3 separate regions of the Homo sapiens genome follow, and regions 2 and 3 are each linked to region 1. Evidence: fine-mapped expression QTL. A gene starts in region 1. Each other region holds a variant in brackets. All regions are shown on one strand. Distances are from middle to middle. Region 1 holds the start of OXTR (oxytocin receptor). Region 2 has its middle 14 kb from the start of SSUH2. Region 3 holds the start of LOC124900561 (small nucleolar RNA SNORA43).

Region 1 (10,654 bases):
TGCAGCAGCATCATGAATCCCTGCCGGTCTGTGTTTGGATTCTTCTCAGTACCTGAGACAGAATGCTGAGGAGGACCAAGAGAAGCCCTGGGTTTTTCATGCAACACCCACCCTTCCCTGTGAATTCCTAAAGAAGCAAAGGGAAGTAGGACCTGAAATTCTTAAAGTCCTCTTCTTTCCCTGCCCCTTGGGCTTCAGCAGGAGCCCGTCTCTACTGAAGGTCTGGTCCCCAGGAAAATCCTCAGAGGACCACAAACACTCAAGAGGCCTATGACCTCCACTCTGGCCAGGATCTGTGTGTGTCTGTTTTTTCCTCTCTCTTTTGCTTCTAAGACAAAGAAATCAATTGTTGACGTGCTTTTAAAGTGTAGAAAAGATCTAAACTTCGCTTCACGGTACGTGTGACGTGTTGACCACACACTCTCCTTCTTTAGGGAGGACACACAGTGAGAAGAGGAGTGCAAGTGAGGGGGCTGAAAAGCAGGAAGCCATAGAGGAGGGAGCTGGGAGGAAAGGGAAGGAGAAAAATCACCAGAGACTCAAGACATGAATGGGAGAGGCGAGGGGACCCCAAGGAGAGAGGAGTGGAATGTCTGTTGAATGAATTAACTGAATGCTGAAATGTCCTCATTCTAAAAGCAAGACTAAGGCTCAAGGGGAATAAAGAGATCTCTCATCTAACATCCCAAAGCTAGTAAGGGCTGGAGGAGGACTAGACCCCACATCTCTCCAGTATCTACTCCAAAGGGTGCTGGTTTCACTTTCTTGATAGTTGGTGTTCGAGCTCCTCAAGACCTGGATCTGGTTTCTTCAGATCTGCCCAGGAAACAGGTGAGGCCTAAGGCCTTACTTAGAGACTTCCACTACTGGCTTTTGCCCAACCCCACTCCCTCATCATGTGTCCTTCATAAGAACCCTGGCATAGGAAACGTCAGCTGTGCCTCTGACTTGCTGTGTGACCTGGTGCAAGTGCCTTCCCCTCTCGGGGCCCTAGAACCCTCTCTGTAAGTTGTTACCAGGGGCCACAGGTGTTCGGTAAATATTGAATAACCAGTGTCTTGGCCACTAAAGCAAACACTGAGCTAACTGGGAGGGTTCCATAAAGCCTGGAGTCTGTGATTTTCAGAAAGGACCAAAGCAAAGTTACCAAACTGAATGAAAGCAGCTGGCACTGAGATTTCGGCTTCCCAGGATGCATGTATTTGAGACTATTGGGAGCAGTAGTAACTGCACACAGAAATGGGACATTTGCAGTGTCTGGAGTGCAGAAAGGGTGAAAGCAAATCCTTTGGTCTTTCTTTACAAACATTTGAAGTCCCCAGCATCCAGCACGCGTTATGGGATTGCCTTCAAACAAAAACTTATAAATCATTCACCACCAGCAATCACCCCCTCCTGGTCTTTCCAAATGAGCTACTGGAAAGGGGTTGGGGGGCAGGGAGTGACAGGAAGCTGCCTGGTGCTCTGTGCCTTGGGGACAGCCACCCAGCACCAGCCACAAACCCCAGAGCCCTAGGGTGCCTCTGTTCCTCCAAGCTTTCTCCCTAGGTCGCCCTCTTCTATGCCCTCCTCTTAGCTTTCTGGCACAGGCCAAGAATGGACAATTGCCCCACCTTCAGCCTTGTCCTCAGCAGTCCTCCTACCTGGAAGGCACATTCCCCACCTACAGAAATCACCCAGCCTCCCCCTCAAACTTGAATGTCCCCCTCAAGGCTTTCTTCTCTTTCCTCCAAGTGGAAGTGAAGTCTCAGTCCTGGGCGCTCTCCTCCCTAAGCCTGCCCACCACTCCTTGCAGTACTCACCTCTCTGCATGGAGACTCATCACCTCCACTCGATGAGGAGTTCAGGGATTTGTCTTCACCTCTCCCTTGGACTCCTCTGCCCCCCAACACCCCCTTCAACTACTAGGTGCTTGGTTGGACAAATTGCCACTCCTGCAAGGCTGTCCTTGTCCAAACCAGACTTCTTGGCTTCAGCTGGATTTCTTGAACTTAAAGTGGAAGTTCATCTTAACGTGAACTTAAAGTTGAAGGAGCTTGAGCTTGGCCAGGGGTTCCAAACTTACCTCCACCACCTCCTCCTAACCACGTGGGAAAGCAGATGGAGTCCCTTGAACCTGTTTCCACCACCACAGTAAACCATACAGCCCATATGCAGCCCAAGGACTGTGCTAAGGACTTTAACTGCATTTTCTCGTGGCATTCCCCTATGCCTGGTGACAGTTGGTACTTTTATCCTTATTGCCACCTTACAGAAGAGAAAGTGGAGGCTCAGGGAGGTTAATTGCCCTAAGTCACTTGGTCAAGGGATGACAGAGCAGTGACTCTGTGGGATTTCAAACCCGCTTATCCCCCAGGAAGTCCACAGACCCCTGGACATTCTGAGGCAGCAAGATAAGGGCCTCCCCCAGCCACCAGGCTCCCTCCTCCTGGGTCTCCCAGCCCTGGCTACCTTCCTTGGGCGCGTTGGCATCCCAGACGCTCCACATCTGCACGAAGAAGAAAGGCGTCCAGCACACGATGAAGGCCAGCACGATGATGAAAGTCATCTTGACCGTGCGGATCTTGGCCTTGGAGATGAGCTTGACGCTGCTGACACGCGCCAGGGCCACGCGCCCCCCATCGCCAGCCGCCGCGCCCTCTGGCGCCTCGGCCGCCGCCGCTGCAGCGGTCTTGAGCCGCAAGTTCTGCCAGATCTTGAAGCTGATAAGGCCGTAGCAGGCAGCGAGCACGATGACCGGCACGATGTAGACAGCTAGCGTGATCCATGTGATGTAGGCCTTGGGTCCCCAGGGCTGGATGAAGACGGCCCAGCAGTCGAAGACGCCGTCAGCCACCTCGCGCAGAGAGAAGATGTGCACCTGCGGCGCGCTGGCCACCAGGCAGCCGAGCCACGTGGCGAGCACTGCCAGGCGGTCGGTGCGGCGGCGCAGCGAGCGCAGCGGCTGGCAGATGGCCAGGCAGCGGTCCAGGGACATGAGCAGCAGCAGGTAGGTGGAGGCGAACATGCCCACCACCTGCAAGTACTTGACCAGGCGGCACAGCAGGTCGGGCCCGTAGAAGCGGAAGGTGATGTCCCACAGCAACTGCGGCAGCACCTGAAACACTGCCACCACCAGGTCGGCGATGCTTAGGTGCTTCATGAAGAAGAAGAGGCGCGAGTGCTTCTGGCGTGTGGTGCGCAGCGCCAGCAGCACACACGCGTTCCCGCTCAGCGCCAGGAGCAGGATGAGACACAGCACCGCCACCTCCACGCGCGCCAGGGCCTCGTTGCGCCGCGGGGGTCCGGCGGTGCGGTTGCCCTCGGCCCCCGGCGGCGCGGCGCTGGCGTTGGCTGCCTCGGCGCTCCAGTTGGCTGCGAGCGCGCCCTCCATGACCCTGGCGGCAGCGGTGCGCCCCGGCCTTCGAGCCCTTTACGGCTTGGCGCGGCTGGGCCGGATCCGGCGTGTCGGAGGGTGTAGGGGCGCCCGGGGCTCCACTCCTGGAGACTCCACGGACGGATCTGCTGGGTCCACCCTGAAACAAACCGGGAGGGCCGTGAGGAGACCGCCGCGTTTCTCTTCCGACGCGGGTAGGGCGTGCTTGTCCCATTCCCAGGAACCCAACTCATCTGAAACAACAGGGCACAACCGCCGGCCTCGGGTTGCTCAGCCGCCACCCCAGAAATCCCCGTTGGAGGTACCTCCTCTGAGCCACTGCAAATGAGCGGGAATCCTCTACCGGCCACAAGCCCAGAGCCCCCAGCGTGCCAGTTCCTCGGGATGTTCAGCGGCTTCCACTGGGGGAGAAGGGAGGGTCAAAATCAGCAACGTTCCTCCGGGAGTGGGAATCTAAAACCAAATCACCTCCCCGAGGGAATCTCCAAACTACCTACTCGCCCCAGGCTCCGACCCTCAGCATATCCACCTGCCGCGGGACCCCCAAACCAGCCCCTCTCCTAGTAAACATTAATTCAAGTACTTCCTCCGGAAATCCCCAAATAGCCACTTGCCTGGGAAACCCCAGCTCTGGTCCTTCCCCGTCTAACCCCCTTTTCTAAGACGGTCGGCCGTCACTCCCTGAACTTCCACAGCACCTGCTTCGGTGGAAACCCGGTTCTGCAGTCCCTGCTGGGGGAACCCCTGCCTCAAAGCCCAAGATGCCCAAGCGCTGTTCCCAGACCCTGGCATAGACACCTCCCGCGGGGCTCCTCCCCAGCCCGGCAGCCTCGAAAGTTCTGGAACCCCTGACTTGCGCTTTGGACCCAGATAATCAAGGACTCTGAGTCTCAATCCCGAGAAGTCACTTTACAATCTCTCGGAACACCCCGAGCTCCTCCAGGAACAAGGAGTGCGAGGCACCCCACCACCTCCACTCGGGTCCCGATGGCTCCACCGGCCCTAGCCATCCCGTCCACCCCTGCTTAGCACCCAGCTACCTGCACCGAGTCCGCAGGCGAACCTAAAGTTGACTCCCCCCGGGGAAGTTGCACGGCGACTGACGGCCCCAGTGACGCGTGCGCTCCCGGCCCGAGTTGGGATGGCCTGCCGGCTGCACCTAATGTGATGCTAAGCTGAGGTCTCTCACTGGAGCCTCGGTTGGAATCCCCTCGCCGCAGCCTGGCTGGTCGCTGGATGGGTACAGGAGGCGAGCGAGGAGCGCCTCCCAGGCTGCGCGCGCGGACAGCGTCTGGATGCGGCGCTGTGCGCTGGGGCTGAGGCTGCACTATCGCACGGGTCCGCTAGGGGGCGGGCGAGGCCAGCCGCGCAGACCCCTCCGGAGCGGAGCTGGTTCGCCCAGCGTTGGTCCCAGAGCCTTAACAAATGGGTTTATTTTGCAGTGGTTTAAAACTGCGAGAGGGAGGGAACTCGTCAATAACCCGCCCGTTTCTTCCTTTCTTGGTTTAGAAGCTCTTGACTCCGAGACACATAGGAGGCTTGAATAATAATGTTCTTCCCCGGGTAGATAGTGATGAAGTTACAAAAGCATTTAAACTGATTATTTCCCAAAAATGATGTTAATTTTCAGGCTTTTCTCTCCCCCCACACCTCCAGCTTGATGTAGCGGCTTTAGCAGTGAACTCAAATAAGTCTTTGCTTTGGAATACTTTTGTTCCTATTCCCGTTAATGAGGAATTAGAAATGGCCTCTATTCTAAGCAGTGCTGGGAGAGGCGTTATTTTTTCGGTAGTTTTAGAGGAAATTCTGAAGCACAACACTGTCTTCATTTAAAGTGATTCTGCTTGTCTGCGCCCAAGAGCCGTTTCTGCCTCCTTGTCGCGCTTCGGAATTAAAATTCTAAATGATGCCAAAGGAAGATAAAATGTTAAAGACAGCTTCTCAGCCTCCCTGCCCCTTCTCTATTCTAAAATCATTTTTTGAAGTAATTTACAGTGGCCAAGAATTAAGTCAGAAAAAAAGGCCAGGATTCAAAAATAAACAGGGCTCTTTAAAATGCATTAAATGTGTATTTCCTCCTGACATTTCACTTCTCCGTCTTTTTATTATGTGGAGAGACTTGAGTTAGCCAAGGACTGGGTTTCCTTAATCCACAATTACAGCCCCATGCCGAGATATCCCAGGGGCCAACCTTACAGCACCTGGATCCCAGGGTTCTAGCTGAGTAATCATTCCAGAATGGGGCTGGGAATCTTGACAGCATTGCCAAGGGGTGGCAGGCAGTATTAATCAATATTAGTCAATAGTACCTATCGGCCTCGAAAATTACAGATTAAAGTTACAGACGACTCAGGTGAGAATGAAGTGACCTTGGGCAAGCCCCTTCTCTTTGGGCCTCAGTCTCCTCATATGTAAAATGAGAGCACTGGTCAAGATAGCTAATGTCTGAGGTCCTGTCCCTCTGGTTTTCTGAAACTGTATAATCTGTGCAATCTGAGGGTTCAATCCTAGCAGGTAAAACACCCCTGCCTCACTCCACGGCTGGATGAAGGCAGATTTTTCCCTATGAGCCCCTGACCGGTGAATGTGAGAAGGAAAACACTGGCCTGTAGAACCAAGCCTGCCCTTCTTTCTCCTGGAAGACAGCTGCTTTCTAGGGAGCAAGTTTACTGAGCCACTTCACCAAGGACAGACTCTTCTACCCTTTGTAGGGAAGCCTGCCTACCTGTGTGGTCCTCGCGTAGCCCGTGAGACAGCCTAATTCTGGATTCACCTAACAGGGCTATTTAGTCTCATGCAAAAGGTAAATTCTCTAACTTAGTTTTAATCTAAACAACAACAATAACAACAACAGTAATAGTGTGATCCCCATTTCCTGTCTTTTGTTTTATTTCTCATTGTGTGCAGAAACCAGGCAGGAAATAGAGAGGTCCCCTTGAAAACTCCTAACAATGAATAAGACATGCTCCTTCACCTTTGAGCTTCGGCCAGGGAGAAAAACACATATTAGATTGGTGCAAAAGTAATTGTGGTTTTTGCTATTAAAAATAATGGCAAAAACTGCAATTACTTTTGCATCAACCTAATATTTGCAGTGTGACAACAATAAATGATGTTACAGAAGTGAGGACTGCTGGGGGCTGAGGTAATACTTGGGAGATCGTTTTACAAAGAGGTAGCTGGATTTCAGAGCTCCAGAATGAGTTCTCCAGGAAGCAAAGAAAAAAGGCATACTTCTCAGAGAGTGGTGCAGGGGAATCACTTTGGCGTTTTGGAGGAAGGACTAAAGATGAATTGCTTGGTGCCTAGCACATTGCCAGCACTTAATACATACAGTTGGCCCTCTATATCCCTGTATCTGTGAGTTCAGTGGATTCAAACAATCATGGATTGAAAATATTCAGGAAAAAAAATCCTCAAAGTTCCAAAAAGCAAAAATTGAATTTGTCATGTGCCACCTACAACACTGAATGCACACAAATGCAGTGACGAGTGACATTGCATTAGGTGTTACAAGTAATCTTGAGATGACTTAAAGTATGTGAGAGGATATGCACGTGTTATATGCAAATACTGCTTCATTTTATATCAGGGATTTGTGTACCTTGAAGGCTCCCGGAACCAATCCCCCATGGATACCAAGAGATAACTGTACTTATTGATGCTAAAGGAACTTCAAGGCCATGTAAAGGAGAATGGGTTTTATTCTGTAACCCAACATTCCCCAAAATATGGGATGGAATACTTTCTGATAGTGTTAAATGTGAATTTAATATTGAGTGATACTGAATAACAGGGAGGAAATTCAGTTCTCAGTTCTGCTTACTTTTGACGTCAGCAAAGAGAAAGTCTGATATAACAAAAATCATGAAGGTGCTAGTGTAAAGATGACTGAGGTTAGAAGGCATTGGTGGGGAAGGTGGGGTGCCTGGAAGGACTGCAAGCAAAACAACGTACTCAAATCTGTGCTTGGTGAGAGAATGCTGGTAGCCACAGGGAAGATGGGAAAGGAGATACTGGCATTATGAAGGCCTTGGAGATCCAGGCAAGAGATGCTGTAGGCATGGACAAAAGATGTGACATTACAGGGTGTCTTTCGGTCTTCCAAAGAAACAGAACCATTGGGATGTATATATGTAGAGAAAGAGATTCATTTAAGGAATTGGTTCATGTGTTATGGAGGCTGGCAAGTCCAAAATCTTCAGAGTGAGCTGACAGGCTGGAGACCCAGGGAAGAGCTGATTTTGCAGGTCAAGTCCAAAGGTCCTCTGCTGCGGAATTCCTTCTTGCTCAGGGAGGTCAGTCTTTTGTTCCATATAGACCTTCAACTGATTGGATAAGCCCACCAACGTTATGGTGGGTGATCTACTTTGTTCCAGATGTTAATCTCATCCAAAAATACCCTCACAGAAACATCCCGAATAATATTTGACCAAATATCTGGGCACCATGGCCCAGCCAAGCTGACACACAAAATGAACCATCACAGACAGAGATTCAGCAATCCCTGATTTACAAATGTCTTCATCTGTCTGAGTATCCGGGCATCTTTTTTTTTTTTTTATTTTAAGTTCTGGAGTTCATGTGCAGTATGTGCAGGTTTGTTACATAGGTAAATGTGTGCCATGGTGGTTTGCTGCACCTATCAACCCATCACCTAGGTATTAAGCTTAGCACATATTAGCTATTTTTCCTGATGCTCTCCCTCCCTCTGCCCCCGTGACAGGCCCCAGTGTGTATTGTTCCCCTCCCTGTGTCTGTGTTCTCATCATTCAGCTCCCACTTATAAGTCAGAACATGTGGTGTTTGGTTTTCTGTTCCTGTATTAGTTTGCTGAGGTTAATGGCTTCCAGCTCCATCCATCCTGCAAAGGACATGATCTTGTTCCTTTTTATGGCTGCATAGTATTCCATGGCATATATATCTATATATATCTATATATATATATATCTATATATATCTATATATATATAATCTATATATATCTATATATATATAATCTATATATATCTATATATATATAATCTATATATATCTATATCTATATAATCTATATATATCTATATAATCTATATATATATAATCTATATATATCTATATCTATATAATCTATATATATCTATATATAGATTATATAGATATAGATATATATATATATATCTCACATTTTTTTCTTTATCCAGTCTATCATTGATGGGCATTTGGGTTGATTTCATGTCTTTGCTATAGTGAATAGTGCTGCAGTGAACATACATGTGCAGGTATCTTTACAATAGAATGATTTATATTCCTTTGGGTATATACCCAGTAATGAGATTGCTGGGTAAAATGGTCTTTCTGGTTCTAGGTCTTTGAGGAATTGCCACTCCATCTTCCACAATGGTTGAACTAATTTGCATTACCACCAATAGTGTAAAAACATTCCTATTTCTCCAGATCCTTTACAGCATCAGTTGTTTCTTGACTTCTTAATAATCACCATTCTGACTGGCATGAGATGGTATCTTATTGTGGTTTTTATTTGCATTTCTCTAATGATCAGTGATGTTGACCTTTCTTTCATACGTTTGTTGGCCACATAAATGTCTTCTTTTGAGAAGTGTCTGTTCACGTCCTTTGCCCACTTTTTAATGGGGTTGTTTTTTTCTTGTATCCAAGCATCTTAAAGGTGGGGCCAATATTGTCTATACCTGTACTTCGAAAGGCCTAGGTCACTATAGAATAGGCACCTTTCAGGTATTTGTTAAATACAGAAGGATAAAAGGAAGGGGGAAAGGAGGGAAGAAATAAACATCTCCATGGGCAGAACCAGGCCCTCTGGGGAAGGTATCCTGCCCAGAGAATGACCTGTCCTGTACCCACTTCTGCCTCTGGGAACTGGGTCTGAGTTTTAGCATCTTGGGAATTTTCCAGCCCTGGCACATTTATTTCAACATGGATCCAAGCCCAAGCGGCCTTTGCTCTATTGTCAGAGTGGAAATGAGCTATAAACACATCCAACCTACCCCCTCCCTAACATCACCGCCTCCCCAGCCTGCCCCCAAATAACTTCTCAGCCTCTGCTTGGGCTCCTAGCTCCAGGAGGGGGGTCAGTGACATGCTCTCAGGCATAAAGGCTGAGAACACATTGTAGCAATCAGCCTGCTGCTGGCACACTTGATCTTCTTACATTTATAGCTCTGTGCGGATGCAGGCACATCAGGGCACATGGGCTGACCTGGGAAGTTCCTGAGGCCGTGCCAGGATGCTGTGTCAGGAGGCCACTGCTTATAGGTAGAACTTGCACGGATTCCTTCTAGCCTGTGTGATTTTGGACTTCCCAGCCTTTGTTTTCATTCCTGTGTTCCATGCAGGGTGGAGAAAGAGAGAAAAATGTGCTTTCCTATTGGAGAGAGCTCTGAATCTGCAGCAGTAAGTGCTTGCTAGCATCTGGATTTTACCACGTTTTGTCAGCGTGGCTAAGGTACTGAACTTCTCTGAGACTTGGTTTCCCCAGGTGCTGATCACATGAGGCTGTGTGTATAAACCAAACTTAATGCACATGAAGAGTGCTTCACAAACAGCAGAGAACTATACAATCAAATCTTTATTCCCATGCTGACAATCCTGACCCCAGGACCACTCCATGAAAATAGTGTCTGATCCAATCAACCTCCATCTTATTAGTCTTTCTGGATGGAGTTCATAATATTTTCAATTTAATCAGACAAACTGCATCTTGGAAGGTAGGGGGAATGTCACTGTGCCAGGCAAGGAAAGTAACTCCTTTGAACCCTAACTGGTGAGATGGGGATACTGACTCTTTACCTTTCAGGGAGGCCTTTCCTGACCACCCTGGCCCACTGAGAAATCATTATTTTCTGAACCTCTCTAGCATGACCAAAAACTATATTTACAGTATGAATGTGCTCAGTCTTCCCAATCCAGTTATAAGTGCCTAGAATTAGTCCCATATATCACAGTCCTTTCTATATTTGCCCATCATTTTCCTATCATGCATGCCTATGAATGAAAATGTGTTGAGAAAATGGCTGATGGATTACCCAAGAACACCCCTTAGCAAATGAGTCACCAGACTCAGACCCCTGCTTCCTAGAATGGTATTTTTATGAAAATCAAGTTGAAGGAGGGCTCTTTGTGAGAAAGGATGTTGTTGATCCCTGTGTGCCATTCTCCCCGAGAGAAAGCGATGACAGAGATAAACACGAGGCTTCTAATTCCATAGACATGTTGTCAATTAACAACGGATGTGGCTAAACAATCCCTGTTAATGAATTG
Region 2 (10,761 bases), 110 kb before region 1:
CATGTCAATTTACATGTAAATTTGCTTATAAGTGTGCATACACTTAGAATTTTTAAAAAGCGTAAATGAAATCATGCTGTAAATATTGCTCATCCTTTTTGTTAAGAAGAAACAAAAAATACAATATGGATATCTTTCTGTGTCAACAGCATACACAGTTTTACCTTGTTCATTTTATTGTTGTTGCTGTAGCAGATTTTACATTTAGCACACAATCCGGTTTAAATTCAGGCACTGGGCTGAATACGAATAACATAGAAATAACTAAAATATTGTTCACAAGACTTTTGTTTTTACTGATAATTTTTGAATGAGATTATTTTTCTTTGTATACATTTTACTGAATTATAACACAAATCCTTTAAAAAGCACAAATCTTAAAAACACAACTGGATGCATTTTGACAAAGTAAATGTACCCGTGTGACCAAAACTCAGATCGGGAACAGAACATGACCAGATTCTGAAGCCACTTTAGGCCACTTTCCGGTACTCACTCTCTACCTCCCGACCCTTCCACCCCACCCAGTGGGAACCGTTCCCCTGCCTGTAACAGCATGGCTCAGTTTTGCCTGTTGAACTTGATACATTTGGACTCAAACAGCAGGCACTTGTATTAGTCAGCTCAGGCTGCCATGACAACAGACTGGTGGCTTAAATGACAGAAATGTATTTTCTCACCATTTGGATGGCTGGAATTCCAAGATCAGGGTGCCAGCATGGTTGGGTTCTGGTGAGGGCTCTCATCCTAGCTTGTAGATGGCTGCCTTCTTGCTATGCCCTCATGTGGAGAGGAGAAAGAGAGAGAGCAAGCTTTCTTCTGTCTCTTAGAAAGGCACTAATTCCATCCTGGGGACCCCACCCTCACGACCTCATCTAAACCTAATTACGTCCTAAAGACTCCATCTCCAAATACTATCACATTAGGGGGTAGGGCTTCAACAGATGAATTTTCAACAAAAGAATCTGGCTTCTTTCACTCAACATCATGTTTGTAGAATCACCCACGTCATCTCAGTTTCCTTTATTTCTAACACTTCGTAGTTTCCCATTGTAGGAATGTATCATGATGTATTTAACCATTCTCCTCTCAATAGACACCCAAATTGTCTCCTACTTCCCTGCAGTTACACTGCTGTGGTTTAAAGATAGCCTTGTACTTATGTCTACACATGTGTGTGTGTTTCCATAGGGTAAATTAGTAGGAATAGAACCGTAGCACCTCACTTTACAGACAGATGCCGGAGCTCCAGGGAAAATATAAATATCTCAATGTCTCAGTGGGTGTCCTCCCCAAGGTCTCAGTGTGCGGCCACTCCAAGATCACAGTGTGTGGCCTTCTCCCCAAGGTCTCAGTGTGTGGCCTACCCAAAATCAAAGTATGTGGTCTTCTCCCGGAGATCTCAGTGTGTGGCTTCCCCAGGATCACAGTAGGTGGCCTCTTCCCCCAAATCTCAGTGTGTGGCCTCCCCCAGATCTCAGTGTGTGGCCTCTCCAAGATCACAGTGGGTGGCCTCTTCCCCCGGGTCTCAGTGTGTGGCCTCCCCAAGATCACAGTGGGTGGCCTCATCCCCCAGTCTCAGTGTGTGGCCTCCCCAAGATCACAGTGGGTGGCCTCATCCCCCAGTCTCAGTGTGTGGCCTCCCCAAGATCACAGTGGGTGGCCTCATCCCCCAGTCTCAGTGTGTGGCCTCCCCAAGATCACAGTGGGTGGCCTCATCCCCCAGTCTCAGTGTGTGGCCTCCCCAAGATCACAGTGGGTGGCCTCTTCCCCCGGGTCTCAGTGTGTGGCCTCCCCAAGATCACAGTGGGTGGCCTCATCCCCCAGTCTCAGTGTGTGGCCTCCCCAAGATCACAGTGGGTGGCCTCATCCCCCAGTCTCAGTGTGTGGCCTCCCCAAGATCACAGTGGGTGGCCTCATCCCCCAGTCTCAGTGTGTGGCCTCCCCAAGATCACAGTGGGTGGCCTCATCCCCCAGTCTCAGTGTGTGGCCTCCCCAAGATCACAGTGGGTGGCCTCATCCCCCGGGTCTCAGTGTGTGGCCTCCTCAAGATCACAGTGGGTGGCCTCTTCCCCCGGGTCTCAGTGTGTGACCTCCTCAAGATCACAGTGGGTGGCCTCTTCCCCCGGGTCTCAGTGTGTGGCCTCCCCGAGATCACAGTGGGTGGCTTCCCAAGGTCTCAGTGGGTCATTCTTGCCCCCATTAGTCCCCACAACCTCTATCTATTTCATCCCTCTGAAAATATTGACTTGGAACTCGTTATGCACACAAACTAGTCGGAATCCCAAACATGCCTCGAATCCATTTTCTGATTGACATCAATGAGCTGACAGCGTGGAGAGAAAGCACCATTCCTTTGTTCAGAGCCAATCAGAAAACTGATAACACAGCCCCTCGCTCTTCTGTTTTTGTCAGAAGAATGATTGAAGGTAGAGCAGAAGACTCGGGAGGCAAACACACAGGCCAGGATTTCAAAACCCGCTCTGTTCTATCCTAAGTTCAGAATGCTGGGGAATGTTTCAGATATCTCCACTTTTTTTTTCTTCTCCTCCTACCACTGTGGAATAAGGGAAATTGAATTTCAAAAGAATATTATTCTAACTAAATATAAGCCTGTGCTGCTATGAAAACAAAGTTTCTAGTTGTTGGGTGGTTTGTTCTGTTTTTTAATAATTTGTGTCCCACTTCAACAATAACCAAGGAAATTAAGATTTTAAGAAAGAGAGAGAGACAAAAAGAGAAAGAGAGAGACCAGGTTTGTGCAAATCTCAAACAGAACACACAACTGAAAAGCCTTCATGTTTAGGTTTGAAATTGAGAAACTTAAACCTCTGGCAATATATACTCTCCCTCTTTTCCATGTTCTGCTAAAAGCAGCTAATTTTCCCATAAGCAAGTCTGGCAAGAAAAGGAACAAAGGTTTGGTCCAGGACACATTTTACTATTTATTCTTCTAACATACAGGAAATGAGGCCTCCTGGAACCTCGCTGCTGCCCGCCTCCTGGCCACCTCTGCCCTGTTTTGTGTTCCCAACCTGGCACAAAACCTGCTTATGGATTGAGCGTTCCAATTCTTGGACTCTCAGCCCCTCTTGACAGCACCAGGCAGTCACTGACTGTGACCCAGGGACGGAGCAACAGCCATTCCACAAACAGTCCTCATGCCCCACCATGTGCCCTAGGCTGGGGACACGACGGGGAGCGAGGAAGACACAACCCCTGCCCATGTGGAGCCAACATGATGGAAAGGACGAAAAGGCCACATCATCTCATTCGGTCCTCACTACAACCCTGTGAGTTGAGAATTGTTATTAGCCTCAGTTTATAAATGAGAAAACTGAGGCACAGGGAGGAAGTGACTTGACCAAGCTCCTACAGGTGGGAAGTGGTGGAGCCGGGATTTGAATGTGGGTTTTTCTGGCTCCCACGATGAGTCTGCCTCCTCTTCCATGGGATTTACCACTCTGCTTCATTTTTTGGTTTGTTTGTTTGTTTGTTTGTTTGTTTGTTTGAGACAGAGTCTCACTTACTCTGTCACCCAGGCTGGAGTGCAGTAGCACAGTCTCAGCTCACTTCAACCTCCACCTCCCAGGTTCAAGTGATTCTCTTGCCTCAGCCTCCTGAGTAGCTGGGACTACAGGCATGCACCATCACACCCGGCCAATTTTTGTATTTTTAGTAGAGAGAGGGTTTTGCCATGTTGGCCAAGCTGGTCTGGAACTCTTGACCTCAAGTCATCCTACTGCCTTGGCCTCCCAAAGTGCTGGGATTACAGGCCTGGACCACTGTGCCTGGCCCACCACCCTGTTTTATAATTACCTCCTTTCTTAGCTCTCTTTCCTGATTGACTCTAGACTTCAGGATAGCATCTCAGGCATCTTCACATAACTGACACTGCACTTGATGAGTATTTGTTGAATAGGTGAGTGGATGAATAATCAATCCAAAGGGTGGTACAAGTCATGGAAGGTTAGGAGGCAGAGGAGTAATACAAAGTGGCATGAAGAAGCCCAAGACTCAGCCCCTACCCTCAAGCAGCTTTCAACCCAGGTGGGACGGCATGACATGGACACGTGGAAGTTCTCTAGCACTGACAGGCCACCCTCCATGAGGTGTTCCATGCTCATAGACAGTGGGTACGACAGGAGGTCAGATGAGCCCACTCTTTTCTGGGAAGGGGGAGATCAGGAAAGGCTGCCTGGAGGAGGCGAGGCTGACACTGGGCACTGAAGGATGAAAAGAGTCAAGTACATGGAGAAGAGGAGGGAACAAAGGCTGACTACCGAAATTATGCTCTTTCTACCACATCCTACCAAGAGGTGAGTATAGAAGGAAGGGAAGGAGGGAGGGAGAAAGGAAGAAAAGCCTTCACTATGGTAACACATGGAGGATTCAGTTCTGTAGACTCCGACACCCTGGCCTCCCTCTTGCTCAGCAGAGAACCAGGCATGGCGCCACCCTCGCTCTCCAGTATGTGTGCATATCTGCTGGTATCAGCAGGCAGTGGGGCTGTCCCAGTCTCTTCCCAGCCTCCACGCCTGCATAGCCCTGCATGGGCAGGACCGTAGGCACCCTTCTCCCCACGACAACTCCAAGGCTGGCCCTCCCTGTTCTTCCCATGTGTGGGGAGACAGTGAGGGAGGTGAGAAGAGCATCCACTCTGCAGTGAATGGGCCTGGGGTCAAACTGCATCCTAGCTGGGTAACCCTGGGCAGGTCACTTAACCTCTCTGACCCTCAGCTTCTACATCAGAAAACTGGGGATGACCCTCATGGAGATATTTATTACAGGCTAAGAGATGACGACATGTGTAAGCAGTTAGCGGAGTGCCTGTGGCTAGCAGAATCTCAGTAAGTGGAAGGCATTGCTATGAGTAGAATTGCTGTTATTCATATCGAATTAGGTGGTAAAATTAAACCTTTATTGCTCCTTGCGTGACCACTTCAGAAACTCTCTCAGAGTTTCTGGCTAGAGGAGAAAGAGGGGGTACTCTGGGCCTTTCTGGAACACCTGGTATCCTTGCCAGGGCAGCTGGTCCCCAAGGGGCAGGACTGTTTGCTTTCCACTTGCTTGCCGCAGACCAGCCTCCATTGGCGACTGGCTTGGGCCGCCAGGCTGGGTGGGGCAGGTGCGTAAACTCTGTGATGCATTCTTGGGCTCCCCAAGGTAAAAATAGTTTTGCTTTGTTCGGCCGGGTGGTTTACACACTCGTTGGCCTGGCAACCTGCCCACTGGAAAGGCAAAGGCCAGACTATTTCTGGCTGCAAAAACAAGCCCCCGCCAGGCCCCAGCGTCAAGCCTCCAGATAGCAGTATTAATATTCTGCTATCTCATTCTTTCAGGCCACAAAAAAACAGAGAAGAAAAAAAGCCTTGTGCCTGCATGACTTCTCCTTCTATTACCCACAATCACAGCTGCCACAGCTACTGCAGACAATGCCCAGGACTCTCAAATGTCACATTCCCCCAAACAAAACAAAACAAAACATAATAAAGGCTATAGTAGTCATA[T/G]TATTAACAATAACATCAACAAAGTACTTACCATACACAAAGCACTATGATAGGCATGTTGCTTCCATGTTATCCTTCCTTCACAGCAGCCCTAAGAGGTACTATTACAAGGCCCATTTTCTAGAAAAGGAAACTATGGTTCAGAGAGGTAAAGTCACCTGCCCAGAGTCACACAGTGAAAAATCAGCAAGGGTGAAATTCTAGCCCAGGTCTGCCTGACTCCGAAATCCATGCTGTTTCTTGGCGCCACTTCTCCTTACACCTTACTAAAGAAAACATGGATGTTTCATTGTCTTTCTTTGTGGTTGCTTTTTTTTTAAAAGTAACAAACCCCACTGGGGCATTTTCAGTGGTTTTCTGGTGTCATTTCTCCCACCTTAATTGCCTCCTCTCTTCTTTTCTCGACAAAATCTCCAAGCTTTACTTGTCTCCTGTCTTCCCTTTGGCCCATCAGATTCCCAGGCCTTTGTTCCCTCCGCCTCTCCATCCACATAACTTTTCCCATCCTTCAATGCCCCACTCCAGCCTCACCTCCTCCAGGCAGCCTTCCCTGATCTCCCCCTGCCCAGAGCAGAGTGAGCTCCCTTCTTTCTGACCTCTGGTCATGCACACTGTCTGTGAACATGGGACACCTCAGCAGAGGGGGCCTTTCAGAGTTAGAGAATTCCCAAGTCCATATCATGTCTTTCCAGCTGGGTTGGAAGAATCTGCTGGAGGCCGGGGGCTGCCCGTGCTTCTGTGTGTCTGCTCACATCAGTCCCCTGACCCAAACCCTCAATGGGCATGGGATCCAGTATTCATCCATCTACCATGCATCATCCGTCTGTCCATCCATCCATATATGTATTCATTCATTCAATGGGTATTTATTGTGTGCAGTGTAAGAGATATGGAGATTCATCAGATACCTGCAGTCAGAAGAGAGAGAGATAGAGAAGGAGGCAATTAGAACACAGTCAATAAATGCTATGGAAAGTGGCATGGGTTCATGGGAATCTTTCCAGGGAAGCAGACATCTGAGTTGGATCTTAAAGGGAGAATGGAGTTCATTAGGTGAAACTAGGAAACCATTCTTCAGACAGGCTCCTAACACATGTCCTCTAGGGTTTGACCTAACGTTCTTCCCATCTCATCCCCATCAGCCACTGTACCACTCGGGTCCCAACAGGGAAGCTAGTCTGCTCCAGTCAGATCCCAGGAGGCGTGTTAGTTTCCACAGGGACTACACAATTCCTAACAGGCAGGGTTGGGGACCACACAGGAGAGTGTGGTTACCTGGCTAGTTGTAATGCAGCCATTACCACTTGAAAAGGTGAGAGGAAGGAATTTATAGAAATCCATAAAGAGAGCGCTGGTTAGAGACCCCCTTGAGGGCACAGTGACTTTCCATCAAAGGAAAAGAGCAGCCCAAGGCAACCTTGCAGGCCAGGAGCCAAGATCAACACCCTGACCTCACTCGCCTCTCATCCACTTGAGGCAGAAACTTAAAATAAATATGCATTCATTCACTCCAAGAAAAGTAACAGGCAAGTCAAGGGTTAAGAAGAAAAGAACAAGTTTTCCTCTGTCTAGCAATCTCACTTCAAGAACAGTTATAAGATAACACTGTTTGAGAAGCCAAGGCCAAAAGAATGGGCTCCAGACAACCCCCTGCCAGAGCAAGATTGAAGGGAAAAAAAGAGAGAAAGACAAATTCCTTTATTGTTACTGCTCCTTTCCCTGGCTTCTTAAGTACAGCTGTGTTTTACAAATGTCTATATTTAGCCTGTTCTTGTTTTTCTTTCACAAGGCCAACAGCTATGCAGGGCCACAAGTTACGTTATGCTATAGATTATATGACCTATCATATGATTAGCTGCTTTTGTTTTGCTTCTGTAGTCAACTTATAAAAACTGTGCTCAGTCTTTGTTCAATGCTCAGCTTTTTGGATATGAATCCACTGAGCCGGTGAGTACCTAAAATAAACAATCCTCCTGTTCTCCGTATCAGTCTCTCCTGTCCTCAGTTTCCTGCAACACACTCATCTCTCACTGGCACCTCCCATTGGCCAACCCAGACAGAGCAAGGGGACAAGGCCAGGCTGCCAGGACAGTGAGCAGGATGTGAAGGGTAAAGGGTGACTCTGGAAGAATGGATGAAGCTGTCCAGCCCAGCTGGCCATGCATTTCTGGCTCTCATGCTCTTGGACTTACTGTCTGACGCCGAAGTCCATGCTGTTTCTTCTAGCCACTGCTCCTTACACCTTACTAAAGAAATATTTTACAATTGTAAGTAACCAGGCACTGTCCCCTGAATCCACTCTTGGCCTTCACATGCACCTCTGTGCTTTCACTCACTCTGTTCCCTCTGCCTAGAACTCCGTTGCCCAGCTTCCTAATCCACCAAAATCTCATTCATCTTTCAAGCCATGCCCAACAACTGTCTTTTCCTTAACTGCTCTGAAAGTATTCACTGTTTAACTTGTATGTCATTCTCTCACGTATCCTTTTCCCTCTACACCCATTAGTCTATGAGCAATTTAAGAGTGGATGCTATGGCTGATTCATCATTAAAATCCTAAACTTCTGCCTCCTCTAAGTCATGAACCTGGAAGCTGTCAGGAACTGTGAAGGCAATGAGATTTTACCCTACCTGCAAGCCAACAAGTCAGCCTGCCTGTTTCATGGATGCTGACAGGAGGCGTGAGAGACTCCCGAATCCGAGACAAAGGACTTTATTATCACAGCAACAGCAATAGCCAGACAATCAAGGTTTTTGCACCAGTGCCCTCAGCCTCAGTTTCCACAGGACCACATGAAGAGGGCCAGGTAATACTGTATATGCAGTGGGTTGCATTACAGAACAGCAATGCTTAGCTTGGGGAACCTGTTGTAAGTAAGCATACCGATATGGTTTGGCTGTGGCCCCACCCAAATCTCATCTTGAATTGTAGCTCCCATAATTCCCATGTGTTTTGGGAGGGACCCAGTGGGAGATAATTGAATCATGGGGATGGTTTCCCCTCATATTTTTCTTGTGGTAGTGGATAAGTCTCATGAAATCCGACGTTTCCCCTTTTGCTTGGCTCTCATTCTCTCTCTTGTCTGCTTCCATGTAAAACGTGCCTTTTGCCTTCTGCCATGATTGTGAGGCTGCCCCAGCCACGTGGAACTGTGGATCCATTAAACCTTCTTTTCTTTATAAATTATCCGGTCTCAGGTATGTCTTCATCAGCAGTGCGAAAGTACACTAATACACATGCCCACCTTTGTTCCAATGGGAGACACTCTCTCTGTCTCCCAAGAATGTTTGTTATGCAAAGATAACACAGAACAAAAGGCAGACAGTGCCTCTGCTTGCAAGACATGCAGAAATGAGAGAGGGCCATGGGGAATTGTCCTCTAACAAAACCTGTGTCCCCTAACAGAAGCTGAGTGTGAAATGCGCACCTTTGTCTCACTCTGCCCTCCTGATACCAAACGTCAGTACTGAGTGTCCAGTCAGAGCCCTGACCTGGTCCCTCCTGAGGTCTCCCTCCCAGTGAATGGCAGGACCCAGAGTGGCACTACTCACCCCACCTGTGAAGGGGGCATAATGACAGGAACTAGCTCACAAGGTTGTTGAGAAAATGAACTGAGTTTTTCCTGTGAAGTACTGAGGCAAGTATACAGCGAGTGCTATGTGTGTTAGCAAAATCAAGGAAGGAATGAAAAAGGAGAAGGAACAAGGACAGATATACAGAAGTAGAAGAAGGCTGAGCACCTAGACCAGAAAAGCCTGGCCCTACTCAGGAACAAGGAACAGAGTTACAGCTGTGAAACATCAGAGAACATCATTACCTACACAGCCCTGCTTTCCCCAGGCTCCAACAGGGCCACTTAGGCAGATGTCATTTCCTACCTTATTGACTCTGGTCTTCATCCCAAATCTGCACTCGCAGACAGGGATGTGATGACACCCACGTGGCTGAAGATGGCTCCAGGCTCCAGTGGTACTGACTTGGGACAAATTACCCACTAAAAACCTGAGATGAATGAAGCATTTTGGAATTTTTCCAAATGCAAAATAAGTACCAAGGCCATATCGATGCTACTATTCCTACTATCGTGTAGAGATTGATTTGCTCTCTTCAGCAGGCATCTCCCGGATCAAATCATTGGAAGATCACAGTGGCATTAATAAAAACAGCCACTGCCATGAGCTGAGCCTGATAATTAACGTGCCATGCTGAGCTGGGCTTTGCATGCCTGCTCCCATTTGATCTCCACCATAAATCCAGGGACAGCTATTATCATTATTATCCCCATTTTACAGCTCATAAAGCTAAAGTTCGTGGCACTGAGGTAACTTGCCTCAAGTACTAAGCTCAGATATAAACCAACATCTCAGATGTCTGACCGACCCCAAAGCCCAGGCTCTACCACACTGCATTATTCTGCTACAAGGAGCCTTGGAATTCACCTACCCCCTCCTGTCTGACATACAGAGAACAGCAATGCATGGGCTGAGCCCAAGGAAGTGCCTGGAACTGAAACTCTTTACTCTGGATTCAGACCCCTGTCTCTCGTCCTTTGTTCCCTGATAGTTTCATCAGGGCTTTGTGAGAAACAAACACAAAGCGACAGAAAAACACAGAGAAAATTAAGAAGGCGTGGTTGGCAGTCGGGGTCAGGTGGGGGCCACAGCAGTGGGGCGGGGTGGGGGGTGTCTGGCTGGGTGTGATATCTCCAGCCCAGGCAAGTCCAGGAATTCCAAGGTCAGTTAGACCAGCAATGTCCACCAGGGGGTGCTAGGAATGTGTTAATTGATTAACTAACTCAGCCTCCCCCATCCAAAGCTATTGGGACACACTGGTCCATAGACGCTCTTACCTTAACAAGGATTTCCCAACAACTGGTTTCCATAGGTACCACAGGGGACACACAGGTAACTGTAGAAGGCACACAGATAAATTTACGGAAAAATTCTTAGTAATGATGCGTGTCCCAAGACAATGTTGTTTTCTTCTAGCTGCACTGCACAAAGGAGGGAACTGCTTTCTGAGTAAGATAAAAATATTTTCCTTGGTTAGACAGTGAGGGATTCTTTGGCTTGTTAACTTACACAATATAGCTTCTAAGGGAAGTGCTGGGAGACCCAGGTTATTTCTCTCCCGGCCCATGTCAACACGAGGTTTCTGCTGACCCAGGTGCCCTGCCAAGTCCTCTTAGCAGGTCCTGGACCCCCAAGGCTGCTGCAAACCCAGAAAGTGTGCACAGACCTGTGTTTCTCT
Region 3 (10,761 bases), 160 kb after region 1:
AACAACAGGTGCTGGAGAGGATGTGGAGAAATAGGAACACTTTTACACTGTTGGTGGGACTGTAAACTAGTTCAACCATTGTAGAAGTCAGTGTGGCAATTCCTCAGGGATCTACAGCTAGAAATACCATTTGACCCAGCCATCCCATTACTGGGTATATACCCAAAGGATTATAAACCATGCTGCTATTAAGACACATGCACACATATGTTTATTGTGGCACTATTCACAATGGCAAAGACTAGGAACCAACCCAAATGTCCAACAATGATAGACTGGGTTAAGAAAATGTGGCACGTATATACCATGGAATACTATGCAGCCATAAAAAATGATGAGTTCATGTCCTTTGTAGGGACATGGATGAAGCTGGAAACCATCATTCTCAGCAAACTGTCGCAAGGACAGAAAGCCAAACACCGCATGTTCTCACTCATAGGTGGGAACTGAACAATGACAACACTTGGACACAGGAAGAGGAACATCACACACTGGGGCCTGTTTTGGGGTGGGGGGAGTGGGGAGGGATAGCATTAGGAGATATACCTAATGTAAATGACGAGTTAGTGGGGGCAGCACACCAACATGGCACATGTATACATATGTAACAAACCTGCACGTTGTGCACATGTACCCTAAAACTTAAAAAAAAAAAAAAAAAAGAATGAAAGTCTTAAGGTCCTTCCATTATACATGAAGTAGTGTACTATTCATTGAAGGTAGACTGAGATAAGTTAAAAATGCATATAGTAAACTAGAACAATCACCCCTACAAAAAAACAAAAAGAAGTATAGCTCGTAAAATGAAGATAACATAAAAAACTAAAAAATACTCAGTTAATCCAAAAAAAAGCAGGAAATGAAGAAAAAACAAAAGAATGATAGAACAGCAAACAAGCAAGATGGCAGATATAAACCCAACCAAATAGAATAAATGAAATTAAAATAGTTTAAACCCTACAATTTAATGGTAGAGCTTGTCAAATTAAATTATAAAATAAAATCCAAACCATATACGGCTTACAATAAAACACAGCTTAAACATAATGGTATAATAGGTTTAAAGAAAAATGAAATAAAGTAGCTGCTATACTCATATCAGATAGATTTTTGAGGCAAGGAATATTACCAGAGACAAAGACATATATGCCATAATAATAAACAGGCTAACTAATCAAGAAGATACATAATAATACTAAGAGATTCAAAATATAACAAAACTGAAAATATTGACAGGGAAAATGAAAAATCTATAAATATAGTTGGATATTTCAAAAAGCTTCTCAGTAATTGATAGAATCAGTAAACAGAATATCAGCAAGGATGCTGAAGACTTGAATATACTATCAAGTAAATTTACATAGCATTTACAGATCACTGCACAAAAAAGCAAACTTTTCAAGTATTTATGCAATATTCACCAGGAAGACCTAACACCTAAGTTATGAAGCATGTCTCAGTAAATGTGAAAGGTCTGAAATGATACAGAACAGGTTCTTTGGCCAACATTGAATTAAATTAGAAATGAATAATAAAAAGGTATCTAAGAAATAACCAAAATCTTTAAAAATTAAACAATACTTCTATTTAACATATGAATCAAAGAAGAATACACAACAAAAATTAGAAAATATTTTAACTGGATGGGAAGGTAAATACAACCTATCAATGTCTGTGAATAGAGGTAAAATAGCACTTAGACAAAAATCTGTATTTTAAATACATCGAGAACAATCTGAAATTATCTAAACTTCCACCATAATAAGCTAAAAAAAGAAGAGCAAATTAAACCTAAAGTAAGTAGAAAGAAGGAAATCATAAAAGACTGGAATTCAATGAAATAGGAAAACAGACAAAAACTGAGAAAAAGCAATTTGAGAAAAATGAAGCTGAAGGATGATTCTTTAGAAAAACGAGAAAAATTAATAACTTATAGGTAGAACAATCAGGAAAAAAGAAGACACATTTTCAGTATAGAAAATGAAAGACAGTAAATCACCACAAACCCCATAGATATTAAAAGGTTAACAAGAAAATGTTACTTAAAAAAACAAAAACAAAAAGAACCCTCTGGCTATAGATTCAACAACTTAGATGAAATGAACACATTCCTTGCTAAAGATGAATGGTTAGTTTAATATTCAAAAATTAATCACTGTAATGTAAATCAATACCACACCCACTAGGAAAAAGACAGACTAACAGGTGTTGGCAAGGACATGGAGCAACTGGAATTAATTTTTTTTTTTTTTTTGAGACGGAGTCTCACTCTGTTGCCCAGACTGTAGTGCAATGGCACGATCTCAGCTCACTGCAACCTCCGCCTCCTGGGTTCACCCAATTCTCCTGTCTCAGCCTCCTGAGTAGCTGGGATTACAGGCGCCTGCCACCACGCCCAGCTAATTTTTTGTATTTTAAGTAGAGACGGGGTTTCACCCTGTTGGCCAGGCTGGTCTCCAAATCCTGACCTCAGGTGATCCACCTGCCTCGGCCTCCCAAACAAAGTGCTGGGATTACAGGCATGAGCCACTGCGCCCGGCACAGCTGGAACTCTTATACACTGCTAGTAGGATGTAAAATGGTGTAGCCACTTTGGACAATAGTCTAGCAATTCCTCAAAATGTTAAAATAGAATTACCATACTACTCAGCAATTCTACTCTTAGGTAAAGACACAATAGAAATGAAAACATATGTCGACATAAAAATTTGTACATAAATGTTCATAACAGCATTATTTATAATAGCCAAAAAGTGGAAAAATGTCAGATTTGAACTAATGAACAGACACAAAGATGTGACATATTCATACAATGGAATATTATTTGGCAATGAAAAATAAGTGAGTATTGACCACAGATAAACCTTGAAAACATTATACTAAGTGAAAGAAGTTAGTTTATAAAAGGCCACATGCTATATGGTTCCACTTAAATGGAATATCCAGAATAGACAACTCTATAGAGACAGAAGTAAATTAGTGGCTATCTAGGGCTGGAAGGGTTGGTAGATAATGATGCTAATGGATACTGGGCTCTTTTCAGGGTAACAAAATGTTCTAAAATTTAATATGATAGTTGTACAACTCTGTGAATATACTGAAAACCACTGAACTGTATGTACACTTCAGGTGGGTATGAATTATATCTCAGTATTATATGAATTATATTTCAATAAACTGATTAATACTCAATGTTATAAATCATATCACAAAATAAATAAAAATATAATAATCTCAATAGATGTAGAATAAGGAAATGACAATTCAACACGCCTTCATAATAATAAACTAGGAAGGGAAGAAATGTCCTCAACCTCATAAAAGGCATCTATGAAAACCTATCACACTTAATAGTGAAAGACTAAATGTTTTACCTATAAGTTGGGGTATTCCAGAATTAAAAGAACATATATTGATGCAATAGTACTGTCACTCAAATGATTTTTGAAGGCAATTATTCTTCCTTCTGGGGAGACAGACCCTTGAAAAATCAGATGAAAGTCAGAGATCCTTTCTTAAGAAATTCATTTAAAAAAAAGATTGGAGAAAGGAAAGGATGTTTGCCCACACCACTTTTATTCCACATCACACTGGAGGTTCTAACCAATGCAACTAACCAAGGGTAGAAAGATAAATAAAAGGCATATCGACTGAAAAAAATAAATAAATAAAACTGTTTTTATTGGCATGTAACTTGATTGTGTATATAAAAATCCTATGAAATCTATAAAAAAGCAATTAGAAATGAGTTTCACTAGTTAATAGTATACAAGTAAATATACAAAAATAAATGTCAAAATGACTCTTTAAAATAGTAATAAACAATGAGAAATAAAAATTTTAAAACTACTCACAATAGCACCAAAAGACATGAAATATTTAAGGATACATTTAACAAAATACATGGAACACACACACATAAAAAAGTAGACAGCACTACTGAGAGAAAGTAAAGGAGGCCTAAAGAGCCATACCACGACTGTGCATTAAAAGTCTTAATATTGTTAAGATATCATTTCTAAGCTGATCTATGTAATCTCACTCAAAATCCCAAAAGGTACACACTAATAAACTGACTGCCCTGCAGATGCTGTCCTGGACCTGCCAGCTGCACAGATGCAGATGCTCTGCTATGCCTGTAACATCGGGGCGAAGTGAAAGTGGCTATTTCTACACTCAGTGTTCAGAAAACACTGAACAACAAGAATGGATAATAGCCTGACATTTCTTAGGGGAACAACAACAACAAAACTGAGTCTAACATTTATGTGGGATTGCAAAGGACCTAGAACAATTTTGAGAACACAGTTGAAGGACTTATACTACCTGATAATTTTAAGACTTACTATAAAGTTACAGAAATCAAGAGTGTGTCATGAGTGAAAGGACAGATATATAGATCAGTGGAACAGAATAGATTCTAGATAGATTCACATGCTATATACATGGCCGTTAGGATTTGACAATGAGGGCAAAGTAATTCAATGGGGAAAGGATAGTCTTTTTAACAAATGGTGCTGAAAAACTAGATATACATATTTTTTAAATAAACTTTGACATTTGACATTTACCTTCCACCATACAGAAAAACTAAATGAAAATGGATCATAGATTTAAATATAAAAGCGAAAATTATAAAACTCCTAGAAAATAACACAGGAGAAATTTTTTGTGATCTTAGGATAAGCAAATATTTTGTTGACATGCAACACAATTGTATACATAAAAAATCATGAAATGATACACAAGAAGCATAAATCATAAAAAAAGTAAATTAAATTTCGTCAAAATTAAAACTCTCTGCTCTTCAAAGACATCATTAAGAAAATGACAAGGTAAGCCACATACAAAGATAAAATATTCACAACACATATATTTTAAAAATTCAGTATCCAGAATATATAAATAACTTACAAATCAATAAAAAGAGTTAAGGGGCAGAATATTTCAACCAAGCCTTTATCAAAGAAAATATACAAATAGCAAATAAAACTATCAAAAGACAGCAGACACCACTAGTCACAGGAAAATGCAAATTAAAACCATCATGAGATACCACTACTACACATTGACTAGAATGGCTAAAATTAAGAAGAATGAAAATACCAAGTGTTAGCAAGGGTGTGGCAAAAGTGGGACTCTCTCACAATGCAAAATGATTCAGTCATTTGAAAAACTGTATGGCAGGTTCTTATAGTTACATTTACCATATGACCAGCAATTCCACTCCACCCAAGAGAAATGAAAACATATGGTTACATAAAGACCTGTGAACCCATGTTCATAACAGCTTTACTGATAATAAAAAAACTGGACACAGTCCAGTTGTCCATCAACAGGTGAAGGGATATACAAATTGTGGCATGGCTATAAAGCAGAACACTGCTTGGCAATAAAAAATAAATGCACTGGCTGGGCACGGGGGCTCATGCCTGTAATCCCAGCATTTTGGGAGGCAGAGGCGGGCAGATCACAAGGTCAGGAATTCAAGACTAGCCTGGCCAATATGGTGAAACCCCATCTCTACTAAAAATACAAAAATTAGCCGGGCGTGCTGGCAGGCACCTGTAGTCCCAGCTACTCGGGAGGCTGAGGCAGGAGAATCGCTTCAACCTGGGAGACGGAGGTTACAGTGAGCCGAGATCGCGCCATTGCACTCCAGCCTGGCCGACAGAGAGAGACTCTGTCTCAAAAATAAATAAATAAATAAAATAAAATAAAAAATAAATGCACTACTGGTAAAAGCAACAACATGGAAAAATCTCAAAAGTATTATGCTAAGTGACAGATACCATATGTAAAATGCTACATACTATACAATTTGTGTAATTCCACTTATGTGACAGTCTAGAAAAGGTAAAATTATAGGGACAAAAAAAGAGATCAGTGTTTCCTGAGGTCTTAGAGTAAAAGAGAGGGAATATACAGCAAAGGGGCACTGGAACTTTTGCTGATGAAGGAAATGTTCTACATTTCAGTTAGAGCAATGGCTAAATGACAATATACATTTGCCTAAATTCATCTAACTATACACTTTCAAAGGATGTATTACATGTGAGTAAGTTATACATCAATAAAAAGGGCACATACAAAAAGCGACAAGCCATTGGATATAAGGAAACTATAGAAAAACCAGTTGTATTTTTGTGTACAAGCAACTAATAAAAATTGACATTTTAGAATAAAACATCGTGTACCACTGCATCAAAAATATCAGAGAATAACTCTTTAAAAAGATGTGTGAGACCTTCACACTGAAAATTGCAAAACATTACTGACAAAAATCAAAGACAAAAAAGGGGACAAACCATATTCATGAATTGGAAGACTCAAATACTATACAGATATCAACTATCTCAAAATTGATCTATAAATTCAATGTAATCCCAATTTAAAAACTTATATGGAAATACAAAAGGCCTAGAAAAAACAAGTCAACCTCAATAAACAAAACTGGAAGAACTATATTACCAGACAGCAAGACCTATTATAAATTACTCATAAAGTACTTAAGACACACATTATTTATCCTGCTCAACGGTAAATAATAGCCCAATGGAACAAAACAATGTCCAGGCCTACACATGTACAATTAGCTGATTCTCAGCCAAGACTTCTGGCAATTCAGTGGGAGAAGGGATGGCATTTCAAT[G/A]AGTGGTGCTGCATCAATTGGTTATTCATATGGAAAGAAAACAAGACAATCTTGTCCTCTACCTCACAACATATGCTAAAATCAATTCCAGATAAACCGTACATCAAAATTTAGGAGCAAGAACAATAAAGTTTTAAAAGAAAACAAGAGAAGATCCACATGATCTTGAAGTAGGCTAAGGCAAAGCACTGATCAAAAGGAAAAATGTAATGAATTGGACTATTTTAGGAACTTCTACTCTTCAATGATGCCATTAAGAGAGTGAAAAGGTGAAATTAGAAATGTACATACATCCAGCAAAAGATTTTTATCCAGGAAATTTCAATTACTCCCACAAATAAGAATAAAAATAGGCCCACAGAACAGAAGAATTGGACATAGATTTAAACAGGTATTTCACTACAGAGGACATCCAGATGGCCAACAAGCATATAAAATTTATAAGTCATTAAGGAAATGCAAATTAAAATAACAAGGTACTACCATGGACCCACTAGAATGGCTAAAATGGAGAGTTAACAGTGGTGATGTTGTCAAGGGTGCAGAACAACTGACACCCTCACACCCTCCTGATGAAAGTGTACATGACTACTGAATTTGGGGCTGTATCCATGAAAGCTGAATATCTGCAAATATATAACACCAATTCCATTCCTGTATATATATATCCAACAGCAACATGCACCTATGTGCACCACAAGATATATAAAAGATTATTTGTAGCAGCATTATTAATAGAGGAAAAGTGGGAACAAAATGAAATGTTTATTAAACACTGAATGGATAAGATGATACGTTTATACAATGGAATACCATATAGCAACAAAAATGAAAAAAACATGACCATATAAAAAAACATGAATGAATCTTATAATGTTGCACAAATGAGGGCAGGCACAAAAGAATACATAAGCTATTGGCCCTTTATTTAAAGATCAAACATAGGCAAAATGAACATATGGGGTTAGAAGTCAAGACAGTGGTCAAATGTGAGAATGAAGGAGTGAATGGGAGGGGGCAGATAGGGCTTTTGGGACGCTGGTAGTGATCTCAGTACTGGCTACAATGACATTTCACTTTATGAAATTTAGTTTGTGATAATTCACCAAACAATACACTTATAATTTGTGTGTTTTAATGTTTGCATGTTATTCTCCAAGTTTTTAAAAATTAGGCAATTCTATATGTTAATAGAAAGAACTCCAATGTATGTGTGTGGTTTAATGAAAAGAACCAACCACTAAATAGTGCACTACACAGAATACTATCATTTTGTAAAAACAGTAATGAAAAGGATATATGTTTGTGTACAATAATCATAATGGCAACATTTACTGAAAGCTAACTACTTGCTAAGGTACTGTGTTAGGCACTTTTCATGCCTTTTATCATTTATTTCACTCAACATTATGAAGTGGGTAGTTATTATAACCCTTATTTTATGAAGGAGAAAACTGAGGTACAGAGATATCAAGTAACGTGCCCACAGTCACCAAGCCACAAAGCTGAAAAACGGGCACTGTAACCCAGGCTCTCCAGATCCACTCTTCCCCACCACATTCTCCCTAGATAGGCACATGAGAAACTGGCAATGGGGTGCCTCTGAGAAGGGATCTGGGGATTGGAAGGCAGGCTGAGAGGAAGGCTGGCTTATCATAGCATACTCTAGGTACCTTTTGAAGGAACACATTTGCACGTCTTATCTATCAAAAATGTATTTATTTACAATATTTTTCTATGGTTTATAATTTCTGAGCTACACAAAATTGCTTTATCCAGAAAGTAAGCATAACTCACTGTTTTATTACTTTACCTGATTTAGGATGCAAAGCATCGCATTGGGCATTGTACATGTGTACAAATTCTTGGTGCCTTTTAATGAGCTGTTGTTTATTTCCTTGAATAGATAATCCATGCTCTTTTAGCTTTTTCTTTAAATCACGATCAGAGAGCAAATTATATACAGTTTTGGGCAGCGGCTTCCTTTTGTGAACAGAACTGAAAAGGGGGGAAGATACCTGATGATTATTGTGAATTATCAAATGCTTTTCATGTAAAATGGCAAATAAATTCTGATTCAACACCTGGGTGACCGGGAAAATAGTAGAACCATTAGATTAAAAAGGGGAGAGAAAAATCAAGTTTGTGGATAAAGTTGAGTGTCTGACATGATGTATCTGAGGTGCTGGTAAGACATTCAGACACAGGGGCCTAGGTGGCACCAGAAGTGAGAGACTTGGGTCTCAAAAAGAGGTCAGACCTAAAGAGGCACACTTAGAAGACATATATGTAACGCTTGTGGAATATGCTGTGAGGACTTCACTTAGAATCACACTTACATAGACCTATTCAATTTTCCACCTCTTTAAAGCATGCTAGAAATTCTAGTGGGCTAAAATTCAAGCTACATAAAAGTACCAATGACTTAAGCAATTCCATAAACAGGAACTTCTTAGTGAGTTTTAATTCATTTCACCTGATTATAGCAGGTTCTCTACCTGGCTCAGCTTTATGGCAATTAGATGCTTAACAAAAATGTGCTCAAGGAGGTCATTACACTTGCTATCATTTCAAAATAAGAATAGCAAAGATTCAGGTGAAAATTAACAGAAACTTGAAATAATAGGTTTATCCAAAAAACAAGTTTTTACAAAGGATTTGCATATAACTAGCTCACACAAGGCTGTCCCAAACGTTAGTGTACCTAAGAAGCACCTAAAGAGTTTATTTAAAACGCAGATTCTCCATCCCCTTCTCCACACCATCCACCAATTAGGGTTCAGGTCTGAAGTGGAGCTCTAAAATCTCTATTTTCAACAAGGTTCTCCAGAGTAAATCTGATATAAACGGTCCAATAATCAAACAGAGAAATATTACAGTCAGGTATAGACTGAAAACAATCAAAAATTTCTCTATTAACCAACAGAGCCATTCCCCAAATAAATTATGTCTTTTATGCTGTATTAACAAAGTCTAAAAGCCAGAAATAACTAATTAACTGTGAAAAGACCTGCAAACTCTCAATAGATTATATTTTTCTGAAAATTGCTCTTCTTACAATGACAACCCATCTGACTCTACAAGGTTGATAAAATTATGGCAAAATGAAATCTCAGTAGGTAGCAACAGCTGAATCATTTTGTGTTTACAGAAGCACACAGGGAGAGATGATTCATTACGTCTGTATCTAAAATATTTGTTTTATCAAGGACAGATGATTAAACTGTGACTGTGAAATTCCAGTGAAGAACTGTACTGTTCACTGGCATTTACAATAAAAAGCACCACCAGAGATCAACAATTTCTATCAGGAATTTTAAAACATGAAACCTGATAAATGTTTCCCCAAACACGAAAATGACATTGATTTTTCTTCCATGATTTAGTGGAACTGAGTAATACATTTAAGGGGCCTCAGAATCTGAGGCAGTTCTGACATGGTTTTATATAGAAGGGTTAAGGGCTGCCACTCACATTCAGCAGATGGCCTGTCAGAATATTGTGGAGGAGACAGGAAAACTCACAGGGCCTTTTCTCTATGACCTGACTCCGTGGCCAAGATACAACTAAAGAAGAACATGGCCCAGTGTTGTCTTCAGAATCTCCACAAACACCAGTTTTGTAAGATGGAAGTGATGAGAACAGAAAGGCTTGGCGGTCAAATAAATTTAGGATTACTAAATTAAACAAAACCTAACAGTAACCCTTAATGTAGGACTTCTCAAAGCCTTTAACACACTAAGAGGGGGATCCAGGAGGTAGTGCTTATAAGTTCACTACAGAGCACTGGCAGGACTATAGTGTTCTTTGAAGCAGGAATTTAAACCACTATTAGAACTTAATTACACATGGACGAGTATGTCTTCAAACAAACTGACAGCATCAGAAATGATGTATCAGAAATGTATTCGAACTGATGGATGGATCTAGAAAAAGGGGAGTCCATGCAAGATAATCAGTGCAGATTCCTTACTCTTCCAAAAGAATATACTCAGCTTCTATATTCCCAACTCATGCATTTCTAAAGAGAAAAGCAGTTCATCAAACTCTCGTGGCTTATGGGAAATAATCCTTAGGACTATTCATTTACTCCAAATCACCACTAAGCA

What was found. PIP is the estimated chance that this variant, and not a neighbour inherited with it, causes the effect.
Region 2: its variant is fine-mapped to the expression of OXTR in nasal epithelium (TOPMed, PIP 0.96).
Region 3: its variant is fine-mapped to the expression of OXTR in tibial nerve (GTEx, PIP 0.97).

What each region holds. Positions count from the first base shown.
Region 1 is chr3:8,764,815-8,775,468 of GRCh38, forward strand. OXTR (oxytocin receptor) reads right to left here and starts at 4,799. Exons shown (of 4, transcript NM_000916.4): 1 at 4,417-4,799; 2 at 3,682-3,777; 3 at 2,452-3,515. The coding sequence starts at 3,373. RefSeq lists enhancers at 2,251-2,922, 3,595-4,266, 4,914-4,963 and a silencer at 3,244-3,303.
Region 2 is chr3:8,653,384-8,664,144 of GRCh38, forward strand. It overlaps a transcript of SSUH2 not described here. Among named protein-coding and RNA genes, the nearest start is that of SSUH2, 14 kb to the left of the region's middle. RefSeq lists enhancers at 4,820-5,009, 5,160-5,209, 5,240-5,289 and a silencer at 10,206-10,295. The variant T/G (reference allele first, on the strand shown) is at 5,511.
Region 3 is chr3:8,927,406-8,938,166 of GRCh38, forward strand. It overlaps RAD18 (RAD18 E3 ubiquitin protein ligase), which reads right to left. Exons shown (of 13, transcript NM_020165.4): 7 at 8,466-8,650. It overlaps LOC124900561 (small nucleolar RNA SNORA43), which reads left to right and starts at 4,090; the gene lies at 4,090-4,227. The variant G/A (reference allele first, on the strand shown) is at 6,653.